Linked DNA regions of Homo sapiens. The protein of the gene in region 2 purifies or fractionates together with the protein of the main gene of each other region. This does not show direct contact. Each region holds a gene or a part of one and is shown on either strand. Other genes may lie near its edges.

What was found.
Region 1: the proteins of TRIM9 (region 2) and DCC purify together in Homo sapiens (affinity purification with western blotting, with the first as the bait; 2 studies listed by BioGRID). This does not show direct contact.

Annotation. Positions count from the first base shown.
Region 1 is NC_000018.10:53,200,374-53,216,432, reverse strand, and holds part of DCC (netrin receptor DCC), read right to left. Parts: intron 11,218-16,059; coding exon 11,069-11,217; intron 8,755-11,068; coding exon 8,616-8,754; intron 886-8,615; coding exon 836-885; intron 1-835. UniProt on the Homo sapiens protein: Receptor for netrin required for axon guidance. Mediates axon attraction of neuronal growth cones in the developing nervous system upon ligand binding. Its association with UNC5 proteins may trigger signaling for axon repulsion.
Region 2 is NC_000014.9:50,990,108-51,006,166, forward strand, and holds part of TRIM9 (E3 ubiquitin-protein ligase TRIM9), read right to left. Parts: intron 10,734-16,059; coding exon 10,576-10,733; intron 8,082-10,575; coding exon 7,943-8,081; coding exon of another isoform or gene 7,893-7,942; exon of another isoform or gene 5,957-7,892; intron 1-5,956. UniProt on the Homo sapiens protein: E3 ubiquitin-protein ligase which ubiquitinates itself in cooperation with an E2 enzyme UBE2D2/UBC4 and serves as a targeting signal for proteasomal degradation.

The DNA.
Region 1 (16,059 bases), on a different chromosome or scaffold from region 2:
CCAGAGTATGACTTTTTCTAAGACCTGTATCATTTCTCTGCTGTCTCCCAGAGCTTAGAAATCATTTAGGCCAATTTCCTCACATGAGAAGTACCTAACTGGAGGTCCAAGCATAGTGGCCAGGTGGTGACAGGGTCAAACCAGGTGAATCCTCATTTGTTATACTCTACTAGGTGGCCTTGGCTTATTTCCAACCCTGAGTCACTTGAAATAATGACATGTTTCTAGAAAACTGACCTCTGGCATTAGGCTACTTCAGCAATACTAGCCTAAGTTGAGCTCCTTTGGAAGTCATAGCAACATTCCAGGCCAGGAAAGTTCTAACAACTAGGTAACATCGCTACATAAATATAACTGTATTGAAGTTCAAGAATGGCCTTCAATGACTACATTTATAAAGGAAGAATGGGGATGATGACGAAATATTCAATTCTAAGTAATGTGTTAGGAAACAGTCTTTCTTTCTCCTAATTATTTCAATTTCCTCATCTAGCACATCATCATTGCTATATGATAGACTGGTGAATATAGACGAAGCAGATGTCTTTGTTTCCTTATGGAATAGCCTTTGGCCACTAAAACATTCACAAAATCAATGTTTGTTTAATATTTGTAAATCAAAATATTTGTTTAGAAGTAGACAAATATTTCATTTAATTTACTTAAGTCTGATGGAAGAGGATGTGGGATCAATGTCACTTGCTGTGTTGTTCCAGAACATTTCTGCACATGGAAGCCACTATCCTGTACTCAAGACAGCAGTTGGGTGAGTGAAGGTTATACATGATAGGTAATCTTGATAGGTAATGGAGTAGTGAACATTTAGCCAACTTACTCTTGAATTGACCACTTCCAGGGAGACGTTCTGAGGCGGGGCACTTGGCACTAAAAGGAATCAAACAAATTGTCACAGTTACTGCCAAAATCTTGAAAGAAAAATACCACCTGTCTAGTAAAAAGAGAGTGTGGTTTTGTTTATATAGTTTATAATGATAATTAGGTAGGTTAACCCAGGTAGTACTTCAAAAATTTTTGGAGAGATGAAAAATAACTGTATTTGTCTATTTTTTTTTTCTCATTTCGCTAGCCAGTTAACTTACCTATGTAGGGAGCCCCTAAAACTGTTACGCAAGAGAACGCGGGCAGTGATACCAAACACCACCATTTAATTACAGCCCTCTTGTGATAACTTTCCCAGAGAAACCAATAAAAACACACAGGAGATTTCTTACAGTAGTTTTAAAGGCTTAAGATATTGCGCATTTCAGAATCTGCATAATTTTATGATAAAATTTGTCATTCTAATGGTCAGCCAGGTTTCTTAATCCCTGTAATGCAAACTTTATTAGCTCTTAAAAAGTGAAAAGAAGAAATACTTCTCAGTTCTTTTAGCTGTGTAAAATTAAACCTTATGTGATAAATACAAGCAGGTTGCAAATAGCACTTGATGAGTCAATTCTATTAGCAAAGCAGCAGTATATTTTTCTTTGTAGAGTTTCTAGGTACGGTATTTTGTTTTTCTTGCCTACATTTTTATTTAACTACTCCTTTATAGAAGGAAGAACATATACAGCTCTCTTTTAATACTTATAATAAATATTTACTCTACCAAAAAAGTGAATATTCTATCATGTGAGTAATTTAAAAACAACCACTTATTGAATGGCTTTTATGTGTCAGGAACTACTCTAGATGTCTGGGATGAAAAATAAATGAAATAAAGCTTTTTGCCCCATAATAGGAATAGAAGTAGCATTCAATAAATTGTTAACACATATTAATCTATAAAGTGAGTAGTCCCTATCCTTGTTCCTCACAAATAGATGAGTTTAATAGAAAAGTTCTCAGGCATTTTCAAGAATCTAAGGGCCATTTTTGACATCTTTCCCCTTCTTTTACTAGAATTTGGAAAAAAATCTATGTTTTTCTATAGAGTACTTACATCTGACCATGAATTTATTTATGCCATACTCTGAATTTATCTTCTAAATAGTAATTATCATGAAGACATGATGTGCCACCGATTAATCTTTTATCTTCCAAACTGACATTCAATTAATATTTACTGAATTAATGATTGAATGAGCAAATGAGTACTTACTTATATAGTTCTAGACCTTTCTGGGAATAACAGAAAATGAAATCTTTTTTTTTTATTTTGATTTTGAACTTCTGATCTTAGTGCCTGATGAAGGTTGCAGCCAGTGTAGTTTCTGACAAAATGCTCATCTGCTTGTTTTTCATGAATTAACTCAGCAAGTATTCTTTCAAAAATATTCCACAATTTATAAAATGTTATTTAATTTTTTGAGATTCTTATTCTGATTTTAAAATTAAATACAGAATGTAACCCCAATAAGGAAAAAGATATTTATTCATTTTGATGTTGTATCACCAGTATCAGGAAGAGTTGAAGGCACATGGTGTACACTCAGTAAATAGTTGCTGAATAAATATATTAATAAAAAGTTTATAAATTATAATAAAAATGGTTCCATATTCAGGGTTTGGTCCCAAGTTTTGTTTTGTAAATTTTTAAGTTAAAGTATAAATTGTACTTGTATTATTATTTAATCTATTCTAAACGTTATAATTATTGACATAAAAATTACAATTTAGTTTTTTAAATTGAAGTACTATTTGTAGAATAAAATAACATGCTCTATATCATATAATTTCACAAACTTCCAAAAATGTTATCCTTTAAAAGCAAAGTTTGGAAATAATGTCTTAATATTAAGTGATATTGAGTCACTTCTTTTTTTTTTTTTTTTTTTTTTTTTTTGAGACGGAGTCTCGCTCTGTCACCCAGGCTGGAGTGCAGTGGCACGATCTCAGCTCACTGCAACCTTCGTCTCCCGGGTTCACACCATTCTCCTGCCTCAGCCTCCCAAGTAGCTGGGACTACAGGTGCCCACCACCACGCCCAGTTAACTTTTGCACTTTTAGTAGAGACGGGGTTTCACCATGTTGGTCAGGCTGGTCTCAAACTCCTGACCTCGTGATCCACCCGCCTCGGCCTCCCAAAGTGCTGGGATTACAGGAGTGAGCCACTACGCCCGGCCGAGTCACTTCTTAAACATGAAAGAATATTTCTAGTTTATATTTAATGTTGTAATACTGACATGTCATGCTATATGTTTCTAATAATATTACACTAACTTTTTGATCAATTAGTATCCAAACATAATATCAATTACTAACTGAATTTTTGATAGATAATTGAATTTTGGAAGAAAGAGAAGGTAACATTTATCATGTGTTTTGTTGTAGGTACTGTTCTAGCTGATATGCAACCCTTAAATGTCACTTTCATTTGAGTTTACAAGTGGCATTTAACTCCTTATTTCTAGAAAGCCAAGAAAACTTTAAGAGGATAGATATATATGTGTTCTTTTTTCTGTAGCTACCACAATTTTATAAGCATCAGGGCTGTTTTCTGTATTAAGAATTGAAAGGCAGGCTGGGCATGGTGGCTCACACCTGTAATCCCAGCACTTTGGGAGCCCGAGGGAGGTGGCTCACTTGAGGTCAGGAGTTCGAGACCAGCTTGGCAAATAAGGTGAAAATCTATCTCTATTAAAAATACAAAAAATTAGCCTGGCGTGTGGGTACACTCATGTAGTCCCAGCTACTCCAGAGGTTGAGGCAGGAGAATCACTTGAACCTGGGAGGTGGAGGCTGCAGTGAGCTGAGATTGTGCCACTGCACTCCACCCTGGGCAAGACAGTGAGACTCTGTCTCAAAAAAAAAGAAAAAAAAAAAACAAGAATTGAAAGGCAATAAAATACAATTCTGCTAAAAGTCCTTTTGTAATGGTATTGAAGTAGTTTTTCTGTATTTTTTTACAGTGCACATTTCTTCTCTAACTTTCCACTGATAGCACACTGGCTATTGTTGTCATGTCAGGGAGGAGAGTAGAGAATTTTTTCTACAGTATTTTTAGTGATCAGTTCCTACTCCCTCCTTCTCACTATCAATTTCCATATTATTTGGAGATAGATAGATACAATAGATGCTAGGGCTAGGTGAAAGTGAAGAGAATCCATATCGATTGTTCTTTTCTATATTTGTCTTCCCAAGACGCTTCTTGTTTCATGAGGCAGAAGTGAAAGAACACTTTTCTCTTCAAAATGTCAAATAATTTATTATTTATAATAAATAGGTCCATTCAAGCCAATGAGAGGTGGGGCTGGAAACTTCCCTCAATATGGAGAAGGATGTTGGCTTGAAACTCATGGAGATGAGGTATTTTGTAGGACAGATCAAGTCCCCATAATTGTAAATGAGTCTCCCAAGGCACAGGCACTTGAATTCCTCCCCTCAGCAAATGTATGCTGCCATGTACACAGAATTTATAGACCAAAATAATTCTAATTTATTTTGAGACAGAATTTCTCTCTGTTGCCCAGGCTGGAATGCAGTGGTGTGATCTAGGCTCACTGCAACCTCCGCCTCCCAGGTACAAGTGATTCTCCTGCCTCAGCCTTCCGAGTAGCTGGGGTAACAGGTGTGCACCACCATACCTGGCTAACTTTTAAATTTTTATTGGAGACAGAATTTCACTATGTTGGCCAGACTGTTCTCGAACTTCTGGCCTCAAGTGATCTACCCACCTCAGCTTCCCAAAGTTCTGGGATTACAAGTGTAATTACTGCCCAGCAGTAATTCATATTTATTTTATATTTATTTTATTTTATTTTATTTTTGAGACAGAGTCTCGCTCTGTCACCCAGGCTGCAGTGCAGAGGCACGATCTCGGCTCACTGCAAGCTCCACCTCCTGGGTTCACGCCATTCTCCTGCCTCAGCCTCCCGAGTAGCTGGGACTACAGGCGCCCGCCACCACGCCCAGCTAATTCTTTGGTATTTTTAGTAGAGAGTGGGTTTCACCATGTTAGCCAGGATGCTTTAGATCTCCTGACCTTGTGATCTGCCCGCCTGGGCCTCCCACAGTGCTGGGATTACAAGAGTGAGCCACCATGCCTGGCCAGTAATTCATATTTAATTATAAGCATTTTCCTTTAAAGGCACTTATCATAGAATAAAAGAAACATGTTTCCACAATGAATCTTGCCTCTGAATTTACTAGCTTATGTGGTCTGGCTCTGCTGCTTACTACCTGTTGTGAACTCTTTCTGACTTAGTTTTGTCATCTGTAAAGTAGGGAAAATTTTAGTAGTATCGTGAGGATGAAAGGTAAAGGCAAAGTACTTGGATCAGGGCCTTCCATTAGTAAGTATTCAAGAAATATTAATAACATTCATAAAAATAATAAGCACATTCTTATGTTGCCTATGAAATCAGGTCCTTCTGCATTTGGACACAGGACAAGCTGGCATGGAAACTTTCAATGGTTCATTCGTTCATAAAAGCTCTTAGTGACTTACCAACTAGTGCAAGAGACAGTATTTTGGAACAAATTGGCAAAATTATTTAGATGATCATATGCTGTATAATCTCAGTGGTGTGAAAAAAAAATGGCTCATTGTAAACCAGTGGTTTTCTAGGTGGAGGAATTTGAATAAAAAATAAGGTTTCTACTCAGAAAATAAAGCCGAGCTAAATTAGAGATGACAGCTCATCTGGACAAAGATCTTTACAAGCATCCCAGTAGAACAGGGAAAAAAAAACATAAAGTAATGAAATTGGAAGAAATGTATTTACACTTAACTTTTGCTTTTTTAAAAATTTTTCTATGTCTCAATATATTTTTTATGGTAAGACTCCTGATATGAAAAGAATTATTATGTTCACTATAATACAGATGCATTTAGACACAGTCATATATTAAATTAATATATCAAATTAGTTCCACAAATGGGAAATCCTAAAGATAAGCCTTTGCATACAGAAATTTGCACAGTTTTGACTGAGCTGTCTAATTAATTCGATAAATATTTACTCAGGAAGAAAACAGAGGTGAATATAACAGCATCCTTCATATTTAGGGGTATTTAATATTAATATAATGAGAAAAAGTGAAGTGCACTTTGGTAGAGATAATGTTTATTAAACACTTAAATGTCATACACTTTGTTAGATGTTTACACAGATCAGCCCATTTAATTTTCACAACATCCACCTGTTACAACATACATAAAGTTAACGAAGAAGAGTGCTCCATGACTGAAGACTGGGAAGCAGGTGACTATTAAATGTGATTAAATACAACTCAATGTGATATATGACCTCAGCATGAACAGCTTCAGGACAGAGGAGGAGACATGAGATTGAAGTAGACAGAAAGGAACTGGATAATAAGGAAATGAAAGCCAAGAGCCACACATTTGTGTTGGACATTAAAAGAGATGGGTTGATTGTAAAAATGAATGCAAACGAGGTCACGGTGTCCACTCTAAGAAGCTTATAAAGTCCTTGCTATCTCCTTTCAGTGCATTTGAGAGAGAGAATTTGGTGTCCTTTGCACAGTGATGTTTATTGGGGTTAGGGTCACGAAATACTTTTTTTATACTGACAGACACTGTCTAAGTCCTAAACATTGTAACATTTCCAGAAGATAATTCTTGGACTAATGAATAATAATCTATCTTTCTCACTTATGACATTTAAAACCAAAGTGGAGAATCAGGCCACAGTATTACAGTTCAGAGTGAATGAAATCTACATAAATTATGTAAAACATTCACTTTCATTTGTTTTTCTTTTATTTTTATAATTATAAGTTGTGAAGTAATTTATTCTACCAATAAATATTCTGTTCTGTCTTCAATAACAGAATTGGATGGATGGGCCTAAGAATTACATTAAAAATGATACCAAAGTGGTATTACGTATAAAATACATTTTAAAGTTGAATTTGCAAATGAGCATTATTCCTGTGTTCTCTTTGTACTGTCCTTAATAATATGCATGCCCTTCCTCATTTCACTGATATTGTGTGAAATGTACACCCAGGTACTTTCCCAGAATAAACAATGATAGATCTGTCAAGAAATCACAAGCTAAAGTCATTTTTTAATTAAAAAGATAAATAATTTATAGAATTAAACACACCAAATGGAAATTGTTGCTGAAAAGAGCTAGCTTGTGGCCTTTTTTAATATTCACAAGGGCCTATCGCTACATTTCTGCACCTGCCTGAGTTTTCGTTGGCCCCACATCATATACTTTGATGTATTTTATTTTCACTTTTTATAAAATTTCCCAACCTTTCATGATCATCTAGCAGTTAGGTTTCTAGTTTCCCCTGGCCATTATTTTGTCAAATTTATTCTCTTTATTAAGATTTGTTCCTCTCTTTTATGGCATTCAAAAACAGGTCTAGCCTGGGCAACAAAGTGAGACCCTGCCTCTGCAAAAAATAAAAATATTAGCTGGGTGCTGTGGCCTATGCCTGTAGTTCCAGCTACTCGGGAGGCTTCGGCAGGAAAATCCCTTGAGGCTGGGTGCAGTGGCTCACGCTTGTAATCCCAGCACTATGTGAGGCCAAGGCGGGTGGATCACTTGAGGTCAGGAGTTCCAGACCAGCCTGCTCAGCATGGTGAAACTCTGTCTCTACTAAAAATACAAAAACTAGCCAGGGGTGGTGGCATGCACCTGTAATCCCAGGTACTCAGGAGGCTGGGGGCAGGAGAATCACTTAAACCCGAGAGGTGGAGGTTGCAGTGAGCTGAGACTGCACCACTGCATGCCAACCTGGGTGACAGAGCGAGACTCCGTTTCCAAAAAAGGAAAAGAAAAGAAAAGCCCTTGAGCCCAGGAATAAAGGGTGTAGTGAAGCACAATTGAGTCACTGCACTTCTTGTCTCAAATGTGTGTGTTTGTGTCTATTCTTCCATTTAGTAGGCAACATACACATTTTTCATGCTCAATTTTAATACTTTAAATTTTAATATCAGCTTATTTGGCCTAATTCCTTTTGATATATTTTCTAATTAAGAGGTAAATATAGGGGGATTGTCTATCATTTACACCTTTAATCATCTGCACACTTTTAGATGGGGGAATAAAACATGCCAATCAAAATTAATCCACACATGCACAAATGTGTATTAGAAAATGTAAAGAAATAAAAAATACACAAAGTTTTAGCTCTTAGTCAATAGTCACATTTTGAGGATTACCTATTAGTATATACTGACTCAAGAGTATATACATATGTATATACATATATACATATATATTTATTTAATTTGGAGAAAGGGTCTTACTCTGTTGCCCAGGCTGGAGTGCAGTAGAACGATCACAGCTTACTGCAGTCTTGAACTCCCAGGCTCAAGTGATCCTCCAGAATGAGCCTCCCAAGTAGCTGGGATCGCAGGTGCATGCCACCATATCCAGTTAATTAAAAAAAAAAAAAAAAAACATTTACAGAGATAGGGTCTCACTATGTTGTTCAGGTGGGTCTTGAACTCCTAGGCTTAACTCATCCTCCTGCCTCAGTCTCTTAAAGTGCTAGGATTACCTGTGTGAACTACCACATCCAGCTGGGAGTATGTATCTTGATAGAAAGTTTACATTTAACTGTAATAGTCCATAAAATTTTAGTCAGGAAGCCTTGAAAATGGAATATATGATATATGTGCAATATCATGTCATTATTGTCAATATTATGTCAAATATGTAAAAGGAGTTTCACTGTTTTTAACTTACCGTCAGAAAGTGTAACCACTGTTATATCATCAGTAGAGACGCCCGGACCATAGCGATTATAAGCTAAGAATCGAAGACTATATTCGGTGAATTTTTTCAGGCCTTCCAGTTTATAAGATAGTCCATCAACCTCTATATTCTGGAGACATAAAACACCAAAACTGTTATCAAGGAAGCACATTAAAGTAGAAATGGCACTCATTCTGTGCAATCAGTGAATTGGACATTAGACTCTTACAAACTACACTCCAGCCTTCTAATGAGCTATAAAACCTACCTTGTGACACAGACTCCCCCACTAAAAACCAACTAATCTGTAGACTCCTTGTTAAAACAGCACATGCTATTTTTACAGTCATTAAGTTCCAATTTGTTTAACACTACTCAATGTACTGAATGGTTTGGGTTATTCTACCCACACCTAAACCCTCACAGGCAGAAGGCAGCTTATAACGCCATGGGAACAGAGATTTTCTCCTGTACCCAAAATGGAATAATTCACCAAGAAATAATAGATTTTGTGCTTCTCTTGCTGAAATATACCCACAGCTCTTGAAACTGTCAGACACTTTGCCACAATTTTTATCTCCCAAAATGCTGTTAGATTGGTTGAAATTATTTGAGCCTCTCATGGCTGCAGTAAATGAGATACTGGAGGTGAAGGTTACTGAGGAATCAGATCTTCACACTCACATCTATCTTGGATGATGATGGTTTTGAATTTATTTAAATTGGTTGGCAAAATGCGTTGAAGAGCTAAAATATATAGAAAGGCAGATAAAACAGAAAGTTGAAAAAACAAGAGCAAAAAATAGCTTGAAGATAGCAAGAAAAAAATACAACCCATGATTACATAGGAGGAGCTCTTGTAATGCTTATCTTATAATATAATTTGGGACTGGGCTTGAGCTATTTTTGAATATAAAATATTTCTTATTTTTAAGTAAAAATTCTGATCATGCAGTTTATGTGAAAGCAGGAAGGCCTTTCTATGCTTGACAAGCTTCACAACAAATAATAAGAACTCCCATATCCTGGGGCCAATTTTTGATTTAACTATTGAATATATACATGTCTGTATATATTTTCCTACATGAAGTTGAGAATCTGGAAGTAAATACCTCAACAGTCATACATATATATATGCATTATAAATATGTATACATATATTATATATATGTATACATATATGTATTATATATTATACATAGATATGTATTATATACATATAGATGTATAGATATGTATTATATAATACATACATGTATATATACATAGATATGTATTATATATAATACATGTATATACATAGATATGTAATACATATACATTATATATTATATATACTATATATAACACATACATATACACATATATGTATATATACATATATACATATATGTGTTACAATACATATATGTATATATACATATATACATATATGTGTTACAATACATATATGTATATATACATATATACATATATGTGTTACAATACATATATGTATATATGTGTTACAATACATATATGTGGTATATATGTGTTATAATACATATATGTGGTATATATGTATTATGTATAACACATATATGTATATATACACATGTATATGTATTATATATGTATACGTATATGTATTATATATGTATATGTATATATGTATTATATAATATATAATATATGTATATGTATTATGCTTATATATGTATTATACATGTATAATACATATACGTATATATGTAATATATATGTATTATATAGGTATACATATTATATATACACATATATATGAAACTCAATTTCTATTTTTAACATATGTGTGTGCATGTATCACCAAATAGAATTTTTCAGTTTCATGTGTCTCCCTAAAGACCTTTTTACTTTTAGTTTACCTGAACAGTTAATTTGCTTCTTTTCAGGTGTCTATGCTAACCATTGGGTAGGAGCAAAATGTAAGGAGAAGGAGACTAGGCTTCTCAGAGTAAGTTCTTCTGAAAACATTAAAAAATGGTAGGACACATCCTGATGATGGAAGGGAGTTAGATATAAATGTCTTAGAATGAAAAAAGCAGTTTGGCAAACGCCATTGACTAGGAGGGCAATCACCCCTTAGTCTAAGGAATAAAACTGCAAATGCCTTCCACGACCAGGTGAGTTAATACAAATCTGGTTGCCCACACACGCCAGGCCACTGCAGACTCAACCAAAAAATTGGTATCCTTTCTATTGACTTCACTTTATTGCCCATTTACCTCTTACCACCAGAATTTAATTAAATTGTGTAAAGTTTCCAATAACAAGTGCTTTAAAACTAATCAGCTTTTCAATGAATGTGTTAACACTGGGCTGTTTCAAGAGTTTGCGAGTCTTTTCCTATTTCTCCAGCCCTAGAGCTATCCAATGGATGGAAACATCCAACAGATGGAAGCAGTGTGGTCCATTCCTTCACCTACCTGTTCTTTTCCTGTGGACACCTCAGTGCAGAACAATCTGTAACCTTGGACTGGACCGTTTGCATAGGCAGGGGGTTCCCAGGTAATAAGAATTGAGGTAGGTGAGGTAGATACAGCTTGCAGGTTTTCTACTGGCCCTGGAACTTGCACTGTATAAAAAAATAATAAAGAAAGAAAGAAAAGTGATTAGGATAAGTGGGTTTTTGTTCTCAAAACAAACAAAATTACATTTTTACAGTTCAATAAAATTCTAGGAGTATGTATTTTAGAATAATATGGAATAAGAATATAAAAATATAAACTCTGGAAGCTTTAGAATCGCTTCATTTTAAAATTCATAAGAAAGCTTACATTAACCAAAATTGCCTATTTTATTTTACATTTAGAGAAACTGGTAAAGGAGTACAAGTGACTAAGATAATGGCAGCAAAGAGTGGGATTGTGAATCTAAATTCTTAGTCTGAAAAATTTGCCACTATGCCACTATGTCTTTGCCTGCACATGGCTAATAACTGCAGAAGGAAAAGAGAAAGTACATTTGGAGTACTTGTATATTATGGTTCTACTTATAATTAAAATAGGTCGCACAGCTATGGATAATTTACCACATTGTCTTTCTTTAAGTCAGAGTTTTAAAATCTTGCCTGATTCTGGGTTCATTAAATGAATTTTAGTGTTCCATTTTCAATTCCACTTTTTAGTATTACATTTTCTCTTATTATTGTTACTTAAGAAGGATAAATAACTTGTCTGCTAATGAAATTAGACAGCACAGATCCACAATCGTTTACCTAAAACACTTTTTTTTTTTTTTTCCAGAAACAGAGTCTTGCTCTGTTTCTCAGGCTGGAGTGCAGTGGCATGATCACATCTCACTGCAACCTTGAACTCCTGGGGTCAAGCAATCCTCCTGTCTCAGCTTCCTGAATAGGTAGGACTACAAGCATGCACCATCATGACCAGTTATTTTTTTATTTTTATTTTTTGTAGATACTGGGTCTCACTATGTTGTTGCCCAGGACAGTCTTGAACTCCTGGCAAGCGATCCTCCTGCCTTGGCATCCCGAAGTGCTGGGATTACAGGTGTGAGACACCACACCCAGCCCAGGTATCTTAAGATTTTGAAACTTTCAGATTTTAGAAAAGTAACATAGTATCTGTGCAGGGTTTTTTTTTCTTTTTTCCCTAATGGGGTCTGTAGTAGCACCCTGTTAATCAAATGTAACTATATATTTGCAGTAAAGCATATGATACTCATATCAAATTGTTTACATTGTTAATCAAATGTAACTATATATTTGCAGTAAAGCATATGATATTCATGCCAAATGGGCTCATTAGAGACTATGAATAGCCTAGCATGAGGTCAGGTCAGGTTCAGATACAGAATGTGTTAAGAAAAAGCTTCCATTTTGATTCTCTGCAAATTTTGTATTTTTTCATAATTTTGTATTCCTGCATATGGACCTGTATATAGCTTGTAAATGGTAAATGCAATGGCCACACTATGGTTACCTAAAATCAACAAATGATACCACCATTCCAGGTTTAACTACAGCCTTACTTAATAATGTTGTCTGTGTATTTTCCCCAGGCTTGGATAACACCTAGCTTTGGACAGATATACATTGTAGGCCTGTAATACAGTTCTGAGAGTTTGAACTTCCATAGCAAAAATGGCATAGGAAAAACTGACTGGCATGAATCTGTTGATACACTTCTTAGATCAGCGTGGAACCTAACAGCGTAACTCTGCATCATTTTTCAAGATTTATTCCATGGAACCCAGGCCCCTTATGGTATCACTGCTCATACATTCATTTGGAAAAATATTTCTATTCATGGCAGAACATGTATTAATGTCACCTTCACATATTTCCCATCAGTCCTGGAACCTTGAGATTCCTTGTTCTTAACACTGTATTTTTTTATCTTTACAAATTACTGTGTTTTTTTTCCTTCTTGCCATTAAAAAGGTATTAAATAATTTAAAACCAAAGGAAATTTTAAGAATGAGGATAGTGCATAGAACAGCCATGTTTCCTTTATCCAGACTTACCTATTGTCAACACTTTGAAATATATATACCAAAATATTCCTTTCTGTATAATTACATACACACACACACGCACACACACACACACACACACACACACACACACAAGAGAATCTATATATCATCAGAATAAGCTACCCAAATCATTTCTCCTTAATCCTAAATACTTTGGTACATATTTCTTAAAAATAAATGTGTATATGAATAGTATAGTTCTCAACTTCAGTGAATTTAATATTAACACAATACTTTTATCTAATCTTCATCTGCATTTTGGCAACTGACCAATAATGTCATTTGTGTAGCACTCCCCTCACCAATTTAGGATCCAGTTTAGGGTCAGGTTTTGTTGCCATGTCTTTCCAGGCTGCTGTGAGTTGGAACAGTACTAAATACATTGACTTTCAGGCAACTGATATTTTTAAAGAATCTAGCCCCTTTTTATAAATAAAATGTTCATCATTTTGAATGTGTCTCTGTCTCATGTTAGACTTAGGTTATGCATTCAGACAAATGAAATGTAAATGATCTGTTCTCAGGGCATCACATCCAGAGGCACAAGCTCTCTCTCTGGCCTCATTTATGATTCCAGAACTGAGTACTTGGCCAAGCAGAATTTGAAGGTCCCCTACGCCTTCCCAGCCCTCTACTCTACCACTTACAACTAATAAGCAACCCATGGGGAGATAACATTAGGACCATATAAATATGCTTGTTATCAACATTTCCCATAGATTTAGCATCTACTAATGGTTCTTGATGGAGTCCATTTCTAGCATGGTGGTTACAAAATAATGATTTTTTTTCCTATTCCAGCATTCCTTTCTCTACATTTACTTGTTGACACTTAGCATTTGACTATAAGCAAAAGTCCATATTTTTCTCTTTTGTGAATCTTTTATTTCAATGGGCACATGGATTCCTTTTTATAATCTATAATTCATTATTGTCCTTAATTATACTGGTGTTCAAATTTACCCAGATTCAACTAGGGAAGCTCTTTTTAATCGTTTTTCTCTGTCCCTGTGACATGCCCCATTGTTTATTGGAGTACCTCTTTTCTTTTTGGCATAATATGTTCCAGGCTCATCTTGATCTTGCCTCAGCTCTAGAAAAAGACATTCCTTCAAGGTTTTCTGGTTCTTTTAGTGGGGAATGGTATAAAGACAAATATTTGAATCCTAGGTGTATAAGTTGCTACTTGAGTGCATTTGCTTCTAGGTCTTTTTGGTGAACAGAGCTAAGAAACATGTGTGCATGCATACATACGCACACACATATATTTACACAAATGTTTATATACATATACACAGACAGTACATATGTTTCATGACTCCAAAGTAATGCATCCCATTCCAATCCATCTCTACTGGGTTTTGTCTTGCTCTCCTCATTCCTCTTTGATGTGTTATTTCACAGAAAGAACCCTTACTCCTAGAGAGTTGTATTTTCACAGACACTTTATGAGTGTCTCCACTTCAATATTCTTCCAGGAAGAAATACTTTTTCTATGAAAAAGCTCTATGTTCCAAAAAGGAGACTTTAAGAGAAAAAGTTGAACAACGAGGAGTCTTAAAGTGTACAGTGATGCATTAGTATTGTGTTATAACAAAGCAGACATTTCCTTAATGGGAAAAAAATGAAACAAAGCAAACCAAAAATGTGTCCACTAATATTGTTCAAGTGGATGGTCACAGTACTGTATTTTAAAGAAAAAAACATAAATAATTTGTATGCTTATACTATTATTGATATATTCACAAAGACAACGCACATATTTCAAGAGGGGACATTTCTGATTCTGAACCTATTATTCCTCTACAGAAGGCAGAGAAAGGAACGAGAACATTGAGACTGAATGACCTGTTAAGATATATGCCGTATGTGAGGGATCCAGAATTGTGATATGGTGCAGACAGTGCATAAACATGTGGCCCAGTTGATAAGTAAAGTACTCATTGAATGTGTTCCTTCTTGCTCTCTTGTGGCCACATGGAAAGGGTGTTCTTTGTTGTGAACATGGCTCAATCTGGGAGCAGAGATTTGGATTTTAAAATGACCCAACTCCAAGGGCATCACTCCTCCTGTGACTTGTAACACATTCAAAGCAGGTGAGAGCTGAGCCCTAGTTTCCCAAACAGAACCACTCCAGGAGGACTGGGAGATGAGTGGGTATCTGGGGGAAGGGAAAGGGAGGCAGTGTGTGGGAAGTTTCTGCTCATCTCTCCCACTAGAGCACAATGGGGTGATGTGACACAATTCAAATGGACTCCAAGTTTCAAGGGGCAAAGGAGAAGAAAATGCACCTTATCTGATCCACCACATGCATAGTAGGTGGCAAATTTGCTGAGAAGGAAGGAGTGTGAGGTGTGCCCATATCACTCAGAGTTTTCTGAGGTTCCAAGTGTGGCACGGAAGAGAAGCTGCAAATGAACTGTTCATCCAGAGTGAAACCTATGAGAATATGGAAGAGCAATCTGAGAGAGCTACTTAGCAATGTAGGGGCTGTGTATGGTCTGGAGCGGGAGGTCATGCACAGCCTTACCTGACCATGACTCTGAGAATCATTGAGGCTTGGAAACTTCTGGGAAACAGATATGACAACCACACACACACTTCCGTCAGGCATCATGGGGGAAAATAGACTATAGGAATATCTGCAGCTCAAAGCAGTATCCCCATAAGAACAAACATGAGGCCACACTCCTCTCCTGCTAAGCCTAGCCAGGGCTGCTCAGTGTCCTGGTTCTTTGTCCCAGGAGAACGGCCAGTACACACTCCATTGAGTTGTGCAAGTAATTGCAGCAACTGTCTTTTCCACAAGGATATGCACAATGTTGCTACATAGAAGGGACTCATTAAATGTCAGCCAAATGAGTGATTTTATATACAGTTACAAATGTTACCATAAATCACAGGCCTAAGGCACTTTATG
Region 2 (16,059 bases):
CCTGGGCTCAAGGGATCCTCCTCCCTCAGCATCCTGAGTAGCTGGAACTACAGGTGCATACCACTGCACCTGGCCAATTTTAATTTTTTCTGTAGAGACAAGGTCTTTTTATGTTGCCCAGGCTGGTCTCAAACCACTGGCCTCAAGCAGTCCTCCCACCTCAGCCTCCCCAGTGTTGAGATTACAGGCATGAGCCATGGCACCCAGCCCATATATTTCTTTTATTTGTTCATTAGCCAACGCTATTGAACACCTGTCATGTGCCAGACATTGCAGTAGAATTGAGCCGTTGGGAAACATAAAGTTGGCAGGAGACTCAACCATAAGAAAAATAATAATTTAGAGAAAATCAGTGTCATATATTATTGATTGGTTTTTACACTTCTGGGGGTGGAATTTCTTGACTGACTCCAAGGACAGAGTACTAAAGATTTTTGCAGATGTTGTAGAATATTTGAAAAGGTAGCCTTTGGGGTGTTATTTTTGGAATCTAAAGAGGAAAAGCAAACAGATTGTGGTTGCTTATGATAGTGTATACTAATCCAGTGCCCTCTGTGTCCTGGTAGAAGTCTGGGTTGTCCTCCTGTCTGGCAGTGAACAACTTCATAACTTAAGCAGCCCTTGAACCCAGGTCCAATAAGATGGTTGTATTTTGGAGCACGGTAAGGCAAGACATGTCACGAAGAATTGTACAGTGTTAAAGATGAGTTTCAACTCAATTATAAACCAGCTGTAAAATAATTTGCTTTTGTTGGGAAGATTTTAAAAGAGACAAAGAAATGAATGAAGAATGAGGCTGTTTTCATAAATGGTCTTATAAGCAGCCAAAGTCACAATTATGTCCAACTGGTACATAATTTATAATAAAAGGTGGTATTTTAAGCTTTGTTAAGTGTGGCATTAATTGCAATTGAGAAGTGAGAAACAAATCTGTTTTGAAAACCTTCTTTTAGAAGAATGAAACAGCTTTTGCCACCCCAAGGACAGATGCATACTTCATCACCAAGTTCTCCACTCCAATTTAGAATACCATGGCATTATTTATAAGGAACTATCATCAGAGGAACTGAAAATTCCTGTATTTCAATTACATACAGAGGATTCCAAAGAATGAAACTGCTTTCCAGGGTATCAGTTGCAAAGCACACTTCCCAGAACCAAAAATAGGGTTCTGAATCTCAGTCCCATGGAAAAATGCAAGAAATTCCCTGGGATATCATGCATGTGTCAAAATTTAAAAGAACAAAGTATCTCTCTTTTCTGGGCTCTGAAACCTATCATTATGCCTCTCACCTTGGATTTTGTAAAATTTACCCAAATATGGTCAGGTATGATTACCTACCTTGAGAACTTTGTCCTGGAAATGCATATTCTTCTAACTATTTTTGGAGAGGCCCAGATGCTCTGGGTCAGGAAAAGCAGAGACAGAAAAACCATCTTTCAGTAGACCATATACATTTCCTTATATGATCCTTTATCAATCATTTTCTATTAGTGTTGAATTTTCAGTATCATAGGCATAACTTTAAGACTCATTATGACCCTTGGAGGAGGCAGGAGGTATCTAATGCTGCTTCATAGCATTTTCTGAAACAACTTTCAACAGCAGTTTTAGAGAGAGAAGCCACAAAGGTACTAATTGTAAAGACTCAGAGGTCCTCAGCTGTAAGTCCATGGTTTTAGAGATGAGAAAACTGAAGTCCAGAGAGGCTAAGGGACATATCCAAGTTACACCACAGCTGTGGAGGGATACAATAGAGACTCAGGTAGGATCAATTCCTGGAGGATAAAATTTTGGGGTGACAAGACTATTGCTGCTCCTTTGTAACCTAGAAATATACAAAAGGTAAAGCTTATGCCACTGGCCCCAGGGCACATTTCAGTGGTCTCAGTGGGGACCAAGGTTTGTGTAGAGGACCTAATAAACCCTAACTGTGTTAAGGATACATCTTTTCTTCTTTAAATAGAGTGTTTAGTTTATGTAGTGGTTAGGGATTGGAAAGGCACACACATCACTGTCCTCCTTGGAATTTTGGCTAGAGGGATTAGATGGGCTGAGGTGTTCCCTGTAGTTGTTCTTCTGACAGGTTCTTTGTTCCTCACAAGGTGACAGCATTTCTGGAGGTCTCAGCACATCAGGGTGCAGTACTTATGCTGGACCAAAATCACTATTAAATATGAGCAAAGGAGCTGGGCACGGTGGCTCATGCCTGTAATCCCAGCACTTTGGGAGGTCAAGGCATGAGGATCGCTTGAGGCCGGGAGTTTGAGACCGGGCTGGGCAACATAGTGAGACCCTGTCTCTACGGAAAAAAAAAAAAGCCAGGTGTGGTGGCATGCCTATAGAGCCAGTTACTAGGGAGGCTGAGGCAGGAGGATCACTTGAGCCCAGGAGGTCAAGGTTACAGTGAGCCACGATCGTGACACTGCACTCCAGCTAGGTGACAGAGTGAGACTCTGTCTCTGGAAAGATAAATGAATGAATGAATGAATGAATAAATAAATAAGTAATTGCAAAAAGATTCTGGACAGATGCATCTGAGGCCAATTTGCATTCAGACAAATGGAAGCATAAGTTTATATTTTGTCTGCACCATTACATCTTTTCTGGGTGGTTTCCTTCAATGCACAGAAGAAGGAGCTACTACAATGAAAGGGGCAGCGTGATGCTGAGAGTCTAATCGGGGAGAAAGACATTTTAATCTTTATGAGTAACATTGTCTAGGCCCACTTTTTAGAAAGCAGTTTTTAAGATGTAGTTTCAAGAATCCCAACCTATTTGTCATTAGATAAAACAATCCTGAAAAATGCTGGGTAGATGGCTTGAGAGCCAGCCCTCTTTTCTCTAATTATCACTGACTACCTTCTCCCCATTTTCCCTCCCAGTTAGGACAGGCAGGGCTGGAAAGCTTCTGTGAATAAATGGCTCTGTGATGTCAACCCAAGCAGGGCTCTGAGTGCCAGACCTCATTTGGTAGTAACTTTCATTTGGTAGTATCAGAGCCTCAGAGATGTAGCTCTGATATTCCTTTTCCTTCCCGGGCAAATCTCGTCACTGCCAGCCAAGAGTATCCACTGGTACCAGTGGGGGAAGGGCCTCTCTAGGTGACCTGCTCACCTGGGATGGGAGGGAGCTGGAGGAAATTTCTGCAAAGACATGAAAATGAGCACAGGACCTGATAAAGAGTTTGGATATTATGCTGGAAATGATGGCCACTCCCACATCTTCTTAAAGCTGGAACGCTACTCTTTTCAACAAGACTCTTTTTTTTTTTTTTGAGATGGAGTTTCACTTTTGTTGCCCAGGCTGGAGTGGAATGGTGCAATCTCAGCTCACCGCAACCTCTGCCTCCCAGGTTCAAGTGATTCTCCTGCCTCAGCCTCCCAAGTAGCTGGGATTACAGGCGCCCGCCACCACACCCAGCTAATTTTGTATTTTTAGTAGAGACAGGGTTTCTCCATGTTGGTCAGGCTGGTCTCGAACTCTTGACCTCAGGAGATCTGCCCAACATGACTGCAAGTAGTAAAGTCCTCCTTCTGGCTGGGATTTCTGGATGAGCATATGAGGCAGCTACACAGCGCTGCTTCATTTTGACAAGGTGTTTTCAGTCACCTTGCAGACAGACTTTGGATAGTTTTCCCTCTCTTTCTTTCCATTTGGTTGAGGGCAAATAGCACTTTTCTAATGTTAGCACCACAGCGGACTGTGCTGAGCATTGGCGGCTTAAAGTCCTGGATCTGACATATTATTATACTTAACCTCTCAGCAGCTCAGTTTCCCATAAGTAGAGAAAGATGACAATAATAATACCTTCCTCATAAAGTATAGTACTAAGAATAATGGGCCATCTAAAAATGTCCACATCTGAATCCCCAGAACCTGTGAATATGTTATTATCCATGGCAAAAGGGACACTGCAGAGGTGATTACATTAAGGATCTTGAGATGGGGGGATTATACTGGATTATCCAGGTGGGCTCAAGGTAATCACAAGGATCCTTATCAAAGGCAGGTAGGGGCTACATGGTGGCTCATGCCTGTCATCCCAGTACTTTGGGAGGCCAAGGGAGGAGGATCACTTGAGGCCAGGAGTTTGAGACAAACCTGGGCAACACAGCAAGACCACATCTCTACAAAAAATTTAAAAAATTAGCCAGACATGGTGGCACATGCCTGTAGTCCTAACTACTCAGGAGGCTGAGGTGGGAGGATTCCTTGAGCCCAGGTGTAGGAGGCTGCAGTGAGCTATGATTGTGCCACTGCACTGCAGCCTGGGTGACAGAGTGTGACCTTGTCTCAAAAAAAAGGAAGGTAGAAAGGTCAGAAAGAGATTGGAAGATGCTACATGTCTGGCTTTGTAGCCACAAAGTCTATCTAAATAGACTAAATAGATAGACTTTGTCCTACAAAGTCAGATGTCTAGCCCCTACCTAAATAGACTTTGTAGGCAGAATCTACTTAGATAGGAAGAGGGAAACTAGAGAAAAATAAACAGAAAATGTCCTATCCTGTTCTCAGCCCTGTATGATTTTTTAAAACAGGAGTACAGCTTGTCTCACACATAGCATAAACCTTAGAACTCTGTGTATTAAGATGGCCTTGCTGTGTAATGTTTTCAACAGATACTCTTTTGCAGATGGTTTCAAAGACTGGCACAGCCATGATGGCTATTAGATGAATTAATTTAAAGATACCCATGACCAAGTTTTGGGGCTTGGGGGCCTTATTTGAAAATTTCATTAAAATTCTTAATTGCTTACAGTTATATTTCATCTTAAGTCAGTGTAATTTGGTTTAGATGTGCAACTGGCGTTTTTTCCATGGGTGTCTTTGATACATCTCCAGGAACTTTGCTTTCAGAGAACTATCCACACTTGGACTCATATAATAATGCATTCTCCTTTCCTTTTCTCTGTCTCTTTTTTTTAAGATGGGGTCTCACTATGTTGCCCAGGCAGGATTCAAACTCCTGGGCTCACAGGATCCTCCCGTCTCAACCTCCCAAGTATCTGGGATTACAGGCATGAGCTACGGCACCTGACTCCTTTCCTTTTCTCTTAATAGCATGTTCTTTATAATTTCCATTGAATTTAATTAATTTTTATTGCTTTCCTAATTCTCCTATAAAAATTTTATCTTCCTGCTAATCCCTTTTCCCTGTTTTTCAGTGTTTATCACAATGTGTAAAAATGGAACTATTTATATGTTTATTTCTCTAAGGCTTGTTTCCTTTTCTAGCTTGTAAACTCCAGGACAGTAGGGATAACGTCTGTTCAACACTCTATACCCACAGCCTAGCACACAGTGGTCACTTATCAAGCACTGCCCAATAAATAGACAGATAAATTTGCTTTCGAAGAAAAAACCAATCAAAATTTATAGTAATGTAGACATTTGATCTCCCCTGCATAACGTTACCTTTAGATCAGCAAAAGGTTTTGTGAAAGCTCACAGAGTACAAAAGATGAGCAATTTAAACCTCAGACTAAATGCATGTGATTACAAGTTAGACTTGTTACCGCATATGAAATTTTACCTTTCTGTGATACAGAATTTTTGTTTTGAAGTTTGAAAAGGGATTAACTCTTGCTAAGAAGAAGGTGAAAGATTTTGTTACACTAGAAAGCCAGAACGCACCACCCCACCACCCCCAATACCAGCAAAGAAAAAAAAAATCTCTAAAGCAAACCTTTCTGGAAACTGTAGGAAATAAGATTAATAAAGCATAAGTGCAGTGAATGTACCAAAACTCTGTTAATAGCATTTTTCTCACTGATTTCTAAAAAACAAACAAAAAAGAGATAATTATTTGATCCTATAGGCTTTGTCTATTGTTACAGATCGATCATATCTTTTTTTTTAAAATAAGCTATTCACTATATTTTTTCTTGCTTTCTAAATCTTGTCTCACTGAATGTATTAGAATGAGGGAGAAACAAATAGAACAAACCAAAGTTATGGAGAAAGTATGTGTGTGAACTTTATTTCATCATGAGAAAATTACTTCTGTGCAGTAACAGAGAATACTGATATCTATATGATGATAGGCTTTTCTTTGTATTCAGATACATACCTTATATTTGTACACAATATATAAAATTCATGGAGGAAATTAATTTCTACAGTACAGTTTCTTTGTTGGAAGAGAACTTGTTCCGTTTGTTTCATCTAGAAAATGACCCCCAGTTCTGTGACTGTGGTACCAAGGATCGCAGTTCCAATCCTGTAATTTATTAAATTAGACACCATAATCTTATGAACATTAAAATAAACTGAGGCGCTACATCCTCCTGCAGGATGAAACGAGAGACATAAGTGCTCAGGCTGTTATGCTAATAACTGATTTTTACCAGAATAGTATGATTCCCATGATGTATTATGAATAGAAATAGTTTTCCCGCAGATCTGATAACACATATTAGCAACATTGCTACAAATTTCTCTCTGCTCTGCAGGCATGCACTTCACTCTTCAATCAAACCACCTTGTACACACATGGGAAATGAGGCCATCACCAGCAAGGGCCTTCTGCGTTGCATCTAGGAAAGACTCTTGGAGGGCTTTAGCAGTTAGTATGGTATTTTGAGAAAAGAGGCAACTGCTCTCAAACTGATAGGTCATCCCTGAGAGAAGGTGCTAAAATGATAATTCTGGGGGAAGCTGTAGCTACCACATCACTGTACTCCAAATGGGAACAGGTCATGTGGGCATTTTCCCTCAGCATATCCTTCTCTTGGAATAGCATCACTTAGACTGACAACTGCTCCCCAAAGCACTGTTTTCACGGCTAGGGGCCTTTCATCCTTGCTGTAGGATTCAAAATTGTGCTTGTTTTTAACCATGTGAAGCATTTTAGGGTGACTGGCACATGTTGAGGTTTGTGGGAAGTGGGAAAAAAAACACCACCATAGTTCTTTTAGCTAACATCTTGAACTTGAACAAAATCAACATAATTAGTTCTGCAGAGGGAAGTTATGGAGAATCCCGGTGAGGTGGGGGGGTGATTTCTTTGATTAAAATGACACCCCAAAGTGTCAGAATGCTTTGGCACCAGCCACAAATACCTCCTTGTAGGTTTAATTTCATGTGTCTTGCTTACTCTTAAAATGAAAATGTTAAAAGCCTCAGAGGTTATATCTGGCCATCAAATTCAAGCCTCTCATCTGAGACACATTACTTGTCTTTGATGACCAAAATATTTAAAGTATAGCTAAGAAGCAAAAATTCTCTAGAGATGAACCTTGTATGGTGGCTCTCGGTAGCCTAGCCAAGACTGAAGGGACTGGCAAAGATGAAAATGGCGGGTAATGCGAAGTTGCTGGTCTCTTCCTGTTTGGTGCCCACAGGAAGTCTCAATCCTGGTGCTGACGGCCTCCGCTTTGGGTATGAAACGGAGGCAGTCTAAGTGGGTAAGCCAGGAGCAGCCAACAGGCCCTCTCTAAACAGCTCTAGCACCCCACCACCCATTTGAAACACATTCAGTCATACAAATCCACGACTGGAAAGAACCTAGGTCCCACCCTCAGAACAAGCAAGTACTACAGAGTAATTTAGAATCATCTGGGCAAAACTGGCACATGATGTGTATCGGTGGAGAATGGGAGCCTGCTCTAGAGCCTAGATACATTTGTCTTACACACCAGGGGCACATTCAGGCCTTCATTTTTCAGCTTCTTCAACTGCAGCTTATTTAGATTGTTATCAAAGGAAGCCGCCGGCCCAAGCCATTGGAACTGCCGATGTGGAATCTTTGGTTTGATCACATCCACATACCATAGGCTCTCTAAAGGCAGGAGAGGAACAGCGGCTCTGTGCAGAATGCAGAGCAAGTCATGGAAACACTTCAGGAATGTGGGCAGTGGTGGGGTTACCTCCGGGCTTGCCAGCCACTTTAGATGCCACGCAGTTCTCGCTCTGAGGGATACTGCTGAAGGGCCTTACCCTCAGACGTTTGGAGGACCAGGGTCTTGCTGTACGGGCTGACTCCTGTTTTGTTGAAGGCCTTGACCCGAGCGTTGTATGTGCTGTTGAAGTGAAGACCATCCACAGTGCACATTGTCTCCTTCCCCACATACACCTCCTGAGAGTCAGCAAAGAACAGGACAGCACTTAGCCTGCCCCCTTCTGAGGGGCGAGGGAGGCAGTGTCGCTCAGTGGTTAGGAGCAAGAGCCCTGGTGTCATTCTAATCTGGATTTGAATCCTGTGAGATATTGGGCCATTTAATTTACCTTTTTAGCCTCAGTTTCCTAATCTGTAAAATGGGATAATAATATCCACCTTATGAGGTTGGTGTGAGGATTACTTAATGTTGTATATGCAGATTAGCGTCATGCCTTGTATTTAGCATGGGCCAGGCAGCCTAATGAATGGTAGTTATTAGCAGCTAGGGCTTAAAAAAAATAAAACTGAGTGCTTATAGTTCAGATTACACTTATTAACTTGGGATTGGTACAGTATATAGCCCCTACTGAGCTCCTTATCCATCAGTATGGTTTGTAAAAAACATGTTTGAAACCATGAAAACAGGAAGGTGGTCTCTATCCTATGTTTAGAACTCCGCTGATAACTTCAGAACTGTCACAGAGATTACACTCCAAGCCACCGGGGATAGGTTTTCATCACAGTACAGAGGGAAGGGGGAGGAAACAGGGAAAGGAGGAAGAATGACATTTCAAAGGCTTAAAATAAATCCTAGCATAATGCGTCTTTAGCATAGGTTAGGCATTTGCCTCCCTCTTCAGCTGTACACATTGCAAAATTATGCTGATGTAATGAATAAAAATAATTTGCATTCAAAGCACAGCCTTAATATGACAACTCTCTGGTAGGATACTAAGAAGACCACGGTCTTGGATCACCCATCAATTCATTACTCCTGCTGGAATAACAAAAATTGGAATATTATGTCCTCTCATTCAGTGCTTCTCAAACTTTACGTGCATATGAATCACCTGAGGATCTTGTAAAAATGCAGTTGCTGATCCAGTAGGTGTCTGGGGTAGGGTCTCGATTTTGCATTTTTAACAAGTTCCCAGGTGAAACCAATGCTGCTGGGGGAGGACCGCACTTTTGAGTAGAGGAAAAAGTCAAGACAAAATAAGATAATTATTTAAAGAATTGGGAAAACCGGGAGAGTTACTTTCCCAGGAGAAAAAAAAGATAATAAAGGGAAAAGAAAGGCCCTGAAAATGACACAGGCACTGAAAAGGCAAAGTCAGGAATGAGAAACTGACAAATAGGATTTTACACACACACAACACACACACACACACTCTCACACACACTGCAAAAGACATGAAATGGAACCTGAGGCCCTTATCTTGGAAAGAAAGAAATTAGATTTTATCATGCCAATAAATCAACATATATGTAAATAAGGCTTCTCTATCAAAAGAGAGAACCTTTGTCCTTGAGGAGAATTGTAGAAGACAAGGCCCCTGCTCTCAAGTACTTAAACCTAGTGGGGGATCAAAAACACATTCAGGAAAAGGGGGCCTTGAGAGGCTTTGCTCTTGAAAGCTAGTGGCTCAGGTTTGGCTATTGGTGACCAGAAGAAAGCCTCATCCTCACGGGCCTGAGGTTTTTTTAGACAGGGGTCTCCTCTTCATCAGTGCAGGAACTGGCCTCAGTCCCCAGAACGGCTGCTCCCTTAGGAAGCTCCAAGCATCAGAACTTCCAGGCAAGACTAGGGTGGAGAGGATGGAAAGTAGGGTGGCAGGGAGAGGATGGATGAGAATGAAGCTCTGTATGAGAGAAGCAGACACATGCCGGCAGGTGGTGGCACATGAATCATCAATCTGGTGGTACCACAGCTGTGTCTTACCAGGAGGCCATTCTGTCCTGCCTTCAGAGGGCAGCATGAGCTTCTCAATGGGGATAGGGCTCCCTCACCTTGGGAAGGTAGCAATCTTCTGGTACCAGTTCTATCTGGTGAAAGGCCCAGAACAAAACTATAGAACTGGGGAAACCTTTGCTAGAAAGGTTGCTTAGAATAGGGAAGCTATAACAGGAGACCATGTCAATTAAGAGGAATGCCAATCAAAGACATTAGAAGCTGTGGATTGCAGAAATAAATCTTGGACAACGGTTAATTATATTATTAGCAATAAGCAATGATGGTAATAATAATAACTAATAATGAACGCTTGCTATGTTCTAGGCAGCATGCTAAGAATTTTGTATGAATTATCTAATGGACTCTTAGCAACAAAGCATGAGATTCACGCTATTGTTATCATCCCTCTAGTTAATAAATGAGGACCTGAAGACTCAAAGGGGTGATAATTAGGCATTGTCCACATAGCTAGGGTGGAGGAGACCAACTTGAATGCAGGCAGTCTGACTCCAGTACTGCATGTCCTGTCTCATAAGAAGGGTAGGGCAGTTTCAGAGACTGCTCCATCCACCTTCACGGTAGAGGGAGAAAGCAGGCTTCAGGTGAAGGGCAGGCAGGCCCTGCCAGGATGGCCTGTCCCCAGGAGAGATGGGGAAGCCAGCCCTGAGACTCCCTGGCAGGTCCTCTGACAGAGTCACTGCTTTGGGTTAACAAGTACGTAGTGGGCTGTCTACTGACCCGGAATTGACCACCGTTGCCATCATCCAGCTCCAGAATGTATCCATCGGCGGGCACCGTGGACAGAGGTGGCTGTTTCCAGGACAACGTAGCGCTGTTGTTGTGGGTACAACATTCCTCCAGCTGTAGGATAGGGGTTGCTGGGACTGGAGAGGAAGCTAAACAGAAATTAGTGTAACTCTGGCTTCTGTTAAGCTGCAGATATTCCAGTATCTTAGAATGACAAGCATCCCCCTGATAAACACGTGGTTAGAAGTAGCCAGAATGGGGTGCACAGGGGAACTGAACAGGATCCTTCACAGAGTCCCCAGGAGTCAGACTGGCTCCTGATTTGCTGTGAGGCCATTTTCTAAGCGCACAGTGGCCCTTCCCACCTTCATTGTGGCTGTTGGAGGGGAGACAGGCAGATTCACAGAACTGTGTTCTCATCCCCTTGAACATTGAAGACATTATCCCTAAAGGAAATGTTTTACATGGAGGCTGGGGTTCCAGTCCAACCCACTAAAGCATATTTAACTTATAACGTGCCTGAAGCTGTGCTAATAATTTTTTTTTTTTTTTTTTTGAGATGGAGTGTCGCTCTGTCGCCCAGGTTGGAGTGCAGCGGCACAATCTCGGCTCACTGCAAGCTCCGCCTCCCGGGTTCACACCATTCTCCTGCCTCAGCCTCCGGAGTAGCTGGGACTACAGGCGCCCGCCACCACGCCCGGCTAATTTTTTGTATTTTTAGTAGAGACGGGGTTTCACTGTGTTAGCCAGGATGGTCTTGATCTCCTGACCTCGTGATCCGCCCGCCTCTGCCTCCCAAAGTGCTGGGATTACAGGCGTGAGCCACCGCGCCCGGCCGCTGTGCTAATAATTTTATCATAAAACTTATTCTGAGATTGAAACCCAAGTTAATAAACCAGAGACTGCCTATTCTGAGAAATAGCTCTGAAACCACTACATTTCCAATATTCCATCATTTTTTTTTAAAACCAGTGATTCTACTCCACGTCTTCTGCACGTAAGTAGCTACAACAGTGGATTTTTGAAAATTTGGATCCAAGTGAGATCACAGTGATCTCTCCGTTTCAAAACTTCCGAGGAACCTGATGTCATTCTCTCAAGGTAGCTATACCTCGAAAACAGCACTAGGTCAAGTCTACTCATTTTCAGGTATAGAACACCCACTGTGAGCCTGGTGCGTGGACTAGGGGCCTGGAGCATGACAAGGAGGCTCAAGATGTCTTTGCAGCCACGTGAGAGTCTGTCATGCTGTTACGAGTCAAAACACCACCCTCCACATTTTATACTGTGACTCTTTTCTAGTACTTAAACTGCAAATTAGTTGAGCCTTCAGACACACATAGAAATATTAGTTACTGAATAATCCCAGTTCTTCACATATAAACTTAATATATGTAGTTGGGAACCATGGTTTTGTGTGTGTGTGTGTGTGTGTTTTTCTTTTTTTTGAGACGCAGTCTCGCTCTGTCGTCCAGGCTGGAGTGCAGTGGCACGATCTCGGCTCACTGCAAGCTCCGCCTCCCAGGTTCGTACTATTCTCCTGTCTCAGCCTCCCGAGTAGCTGGGACTACAGGCCCCTGCCACCACGGCTGGCTGATTTTTTTTTTTTCTTTTTGGTATTTTTAGTAGAGACGGGGTTTCACCGTGTTAGCCAAGATGGTCTCGATCTACTGACCTCATGATCCACCTGCCTCGGCCTCCCAAAGTGCTGGGATTAGAGATATGAGCCACCGTGCCCGGCTGGGAACCATGTTTTTGCCAGCTGCTTAAAAATTTTTTTTCAGCACCAAAACATTGATTTATTACTATTATTACTTTAGTACTTTAATAACAGGAGAGAACAGCTTGGACCATATCCAGGGACATTTAGATGAACAAATGTTCATCATGGAACACCTGGTATGCTGTACCAAAATTGGACTCTGTGTCTTGTGCACTGAATTAAATCTATGCCTTGTCAGTCATCCCAACCAAAACAGTGTTTAATTTTACAGCAGTTTAGAAAACAGGTTCTATGGCAGATAACCTAGAAAACAAAAGCAGTGACTGTAACATAAGAAATGAGAAGGTGAAGCCGGTCAATTGTCGTATACTTAAGAAAACACTGTGAGACATTACAATAAAACCATGTCTGAGCTACTAAATCAAACATAGCTAAATCAAAATTAGTGCCTGTTAAAACTGCAGGCAATTGGTTTAGGAGAAGAAATCATGTTTTAAGCTTCAACGGCACAGGGTTTGGATGAAATCTTATCAAAGAGCTACAGCTACTGCAGGCTCAGAAGCCCCAGAAATCCAGATTTGGAGGAAAGGAAATAAATTCATTGTCTTGCTCACTAAATAAACTACAGGACTGGTTGGAAAGAGAAGGACACAGAAGACATAATGCCTTCTAATGAGAGTATCTAAACATAAATAGGCATCACCCAGGAGTCGTAATTGCAGGATTAACTTTAGGTCATTTTAACTACTAGGGACTTTCCTTTTTATTTTAAATTTGTTTTCTTTATTAAAATACATTTTTAACATATTTACTACGGAAGATAAATATAACAAGTTTTGGGAAACCATTCTTCAAAGGGCTTGTAGAGACATGAATGATTCCCCCCGGGGGGTATTTATTCTTAACTGTCCTTATTAGTTAGCGCCCACCATGAAACAATTCCTTATGCTCTTATTTCATTAGCTCCATATTAGTCTTTCTTTTTTCCTTTGTTCATGTTTCAGGTAAGTCTACATTTCATCAATTACAAAAATCAAAGAATAAGATCACAGATGGTTTCAACTTAAATCATGCAAATGCTTACAATGTCTCTGATAAGAAACTCAAATGTACCTGTGTAGACATAGGTATAATTAAAAAAGTAACTGAAATACATGATGTCATGTGTAATTAAAACATCAGAACTTAATTTATAAGCCCTTGGTGGATACAGTTTAAAAGACCAAAAGGATAAAAAAAAAAGGCTAGACTCTCAATAATCTTCAGATCTTGATATTGTCCCAGATTTAGACAAATTAGCAAATGGACAAAAAGTCAAAGGGAGTGGAGAGGAAAAAAAAAAGAAAGAACTAACCCAGAGATATTTGCATCTGTCTGAATCTATTCCTCCATGTGCTGAGAATTAGTTTTCCGTTTTCCTTATTTACCCCCAGTGATGTTGTATATAAAAGGTGAATGTGCCAAAATTACAGCCTCATTAGCAGAAACTCAGGCTGACATTCTAGAAAAATATATTTTATAGTGGGTGTTATGTTATCCTATTTAACTTCATTAGGCACAAAATAAATGGTCTACTAGAAATCCAAAGTACTTTCCAATTAATCTATCTTTTATGGTTTGGAAAAGGATAGCATTACAGTTTCTGGACTGAAATCTAAGGAAGAGCATTGTGTTTTACTGGAACTCCTGTTATTGGGGCTGTCATAGCTATATTGATTTTTACACTTTCTTGATCATTCTGGGGCAGCTTTTGTTTTTTCCTTAAGAATGAATTTCCCCTGACCTGATCAGGGTTCCAGCATTTATCCTTCTTTTAGCCTGTAAAATCAAGCTTTAGGCTAAAAATTCTTCTCTTAAAATACAAGGGGGAAGCTATTCTCACTGACTTCCTTGAAGAGGTCTGGCGGAGCTGTGGTTCAAAATTAAATTTTCCAGTAGCAGCTTCTTATACCAATGTTTTCAAATGTCTTCCCTTTTTAAGGCCACTCTATTTCAAATTCTATCTCACATTTTATTTGTTTAATTTTTTTTTTCAGTGATCTTTCAGATTGTGAACACTCACAACCATCCAGAATTCCTCTGTGAAAGTACACAGGAGTGTGGCAGGGACAAGTGAGAAGAGAAGCTGGGCTCCCAACCTCAACAGGGAACACTAATCATAAGGGATGCTTTCAAGCACTTTACTGAATGCCAGAGAGTGTTGTGAGAGGTTTACAGGTATTCACTCATTTAATTTTCACAATAATCCTATAAAGAAGGTATTGCAATTATCTTTATTGTGCAGCTGAGGAAATGGAAACACAGTAAGGTTTTACAGCTAGTAAGTGGCAGGACTGGCATCTGAAGCCAAGCAGCCTGGCTCCAGAGGCTGTGTGCTTAGCATTGCATCATACTGCCCCTCTCCAGTCCGGTGTTTAGAAATAGTGTACTGGAGGAAAGTCTGCACGTCTAATTCCCAAAGTTTCTTTCTGTTTCCTATAATGTGAACAATAAAGATTCCCCAAATAAAGATTCTACCTTCACAACTATGGTGGTTGGGAATGCAATTTTACTGTGTTATCTTCTCTGAAGGCTCATTTGTAGACTGTCATTCCCCTTTATGGTGGCTGAACAATACAAATGGCATCTGAGGAAAGTTTAGACTTTAGCAGAACTACAAGCTGTTTCTGGAAAGCTATTACCGGTACACTGTTAAAGATAACCCTGAACGCAGGTTTTGAGTCCATGCATTTCAGGCTATCAGCATTAACAGATTACATGCAAGTGTGTGTGCTCATTCCATCCCCGCTAACCCTCTGGCAGCTTTCCCCCTATGATTTATAGGGGACTCTATTCAGATCACACTGTCCTTGCCCATGACCTTGGTGCATACTCAGGGCTCTTATATTCAACTTGAGTCAATAAAAATAAATACACCCTTAGGTGAGTAGAGGCACTTAAGGGGATTAACAGCCAATGGTCTATGTGCTAAAAAGGCTTGGTGAACTGTTAGGTCATTGTTTCGTCCTGGTTCAGAATGAACAAACTGGCATTTCACTTCAGTACCATGACTCATGAATCTTGGGATTCTTTGTGTACTTAGACAATTCTGGGTTAATATTTATTGGGGGAGGAAGTAGGTATCTGAAATCTATTCTCAACCAAACAGTAAAGCCCTTGGCTGACTAGGAGAAGACTTAAAATTTCCTTCCTATGACCTGGAAAAGAGCTGATCATACAACCTTAGAATTAAGTGGAAAATGTTTTTTTAATTACTCTCTAATAAAAGTAGAAGACAAAACTTAATATGTTGTTTTCTATAAAAGAAAAGTCTGAAAGACCAAATGCCACTTCCAGTTTTCTGGAAAGAGGGTAAGATGATTTTCTAATCAAAATACAACCAGAAAACGTGCCATTACAATTTAGGGATATTTGAAAAAAGGTACCAGCCTTCTCCAGATTGATCCCATTGCTTGAGGGTGGTGTGGAATCAGAATGGGTCAGTTAAATCCGTAGCTAATAAGAGAGTAAAACTTTAGATAGTGCATTCTTGCTGAATAGCAGCTGGTCTGAGTGAAAATACGTAAAAGCCAACTGCAAACCTACTTTCTTTTTTATCAACAACAACAACAAAAACAACGGCAACAACAATGGCGTCTATGATGAGCTTTTGAAACCAGAGATGTTTGATAAAATTCTGAGTCAAGAAGTAAACAGATATTTTAGTTATGATTTTGAGTCAGAACTTTAAATGCATACTTTAAGTAAATTTG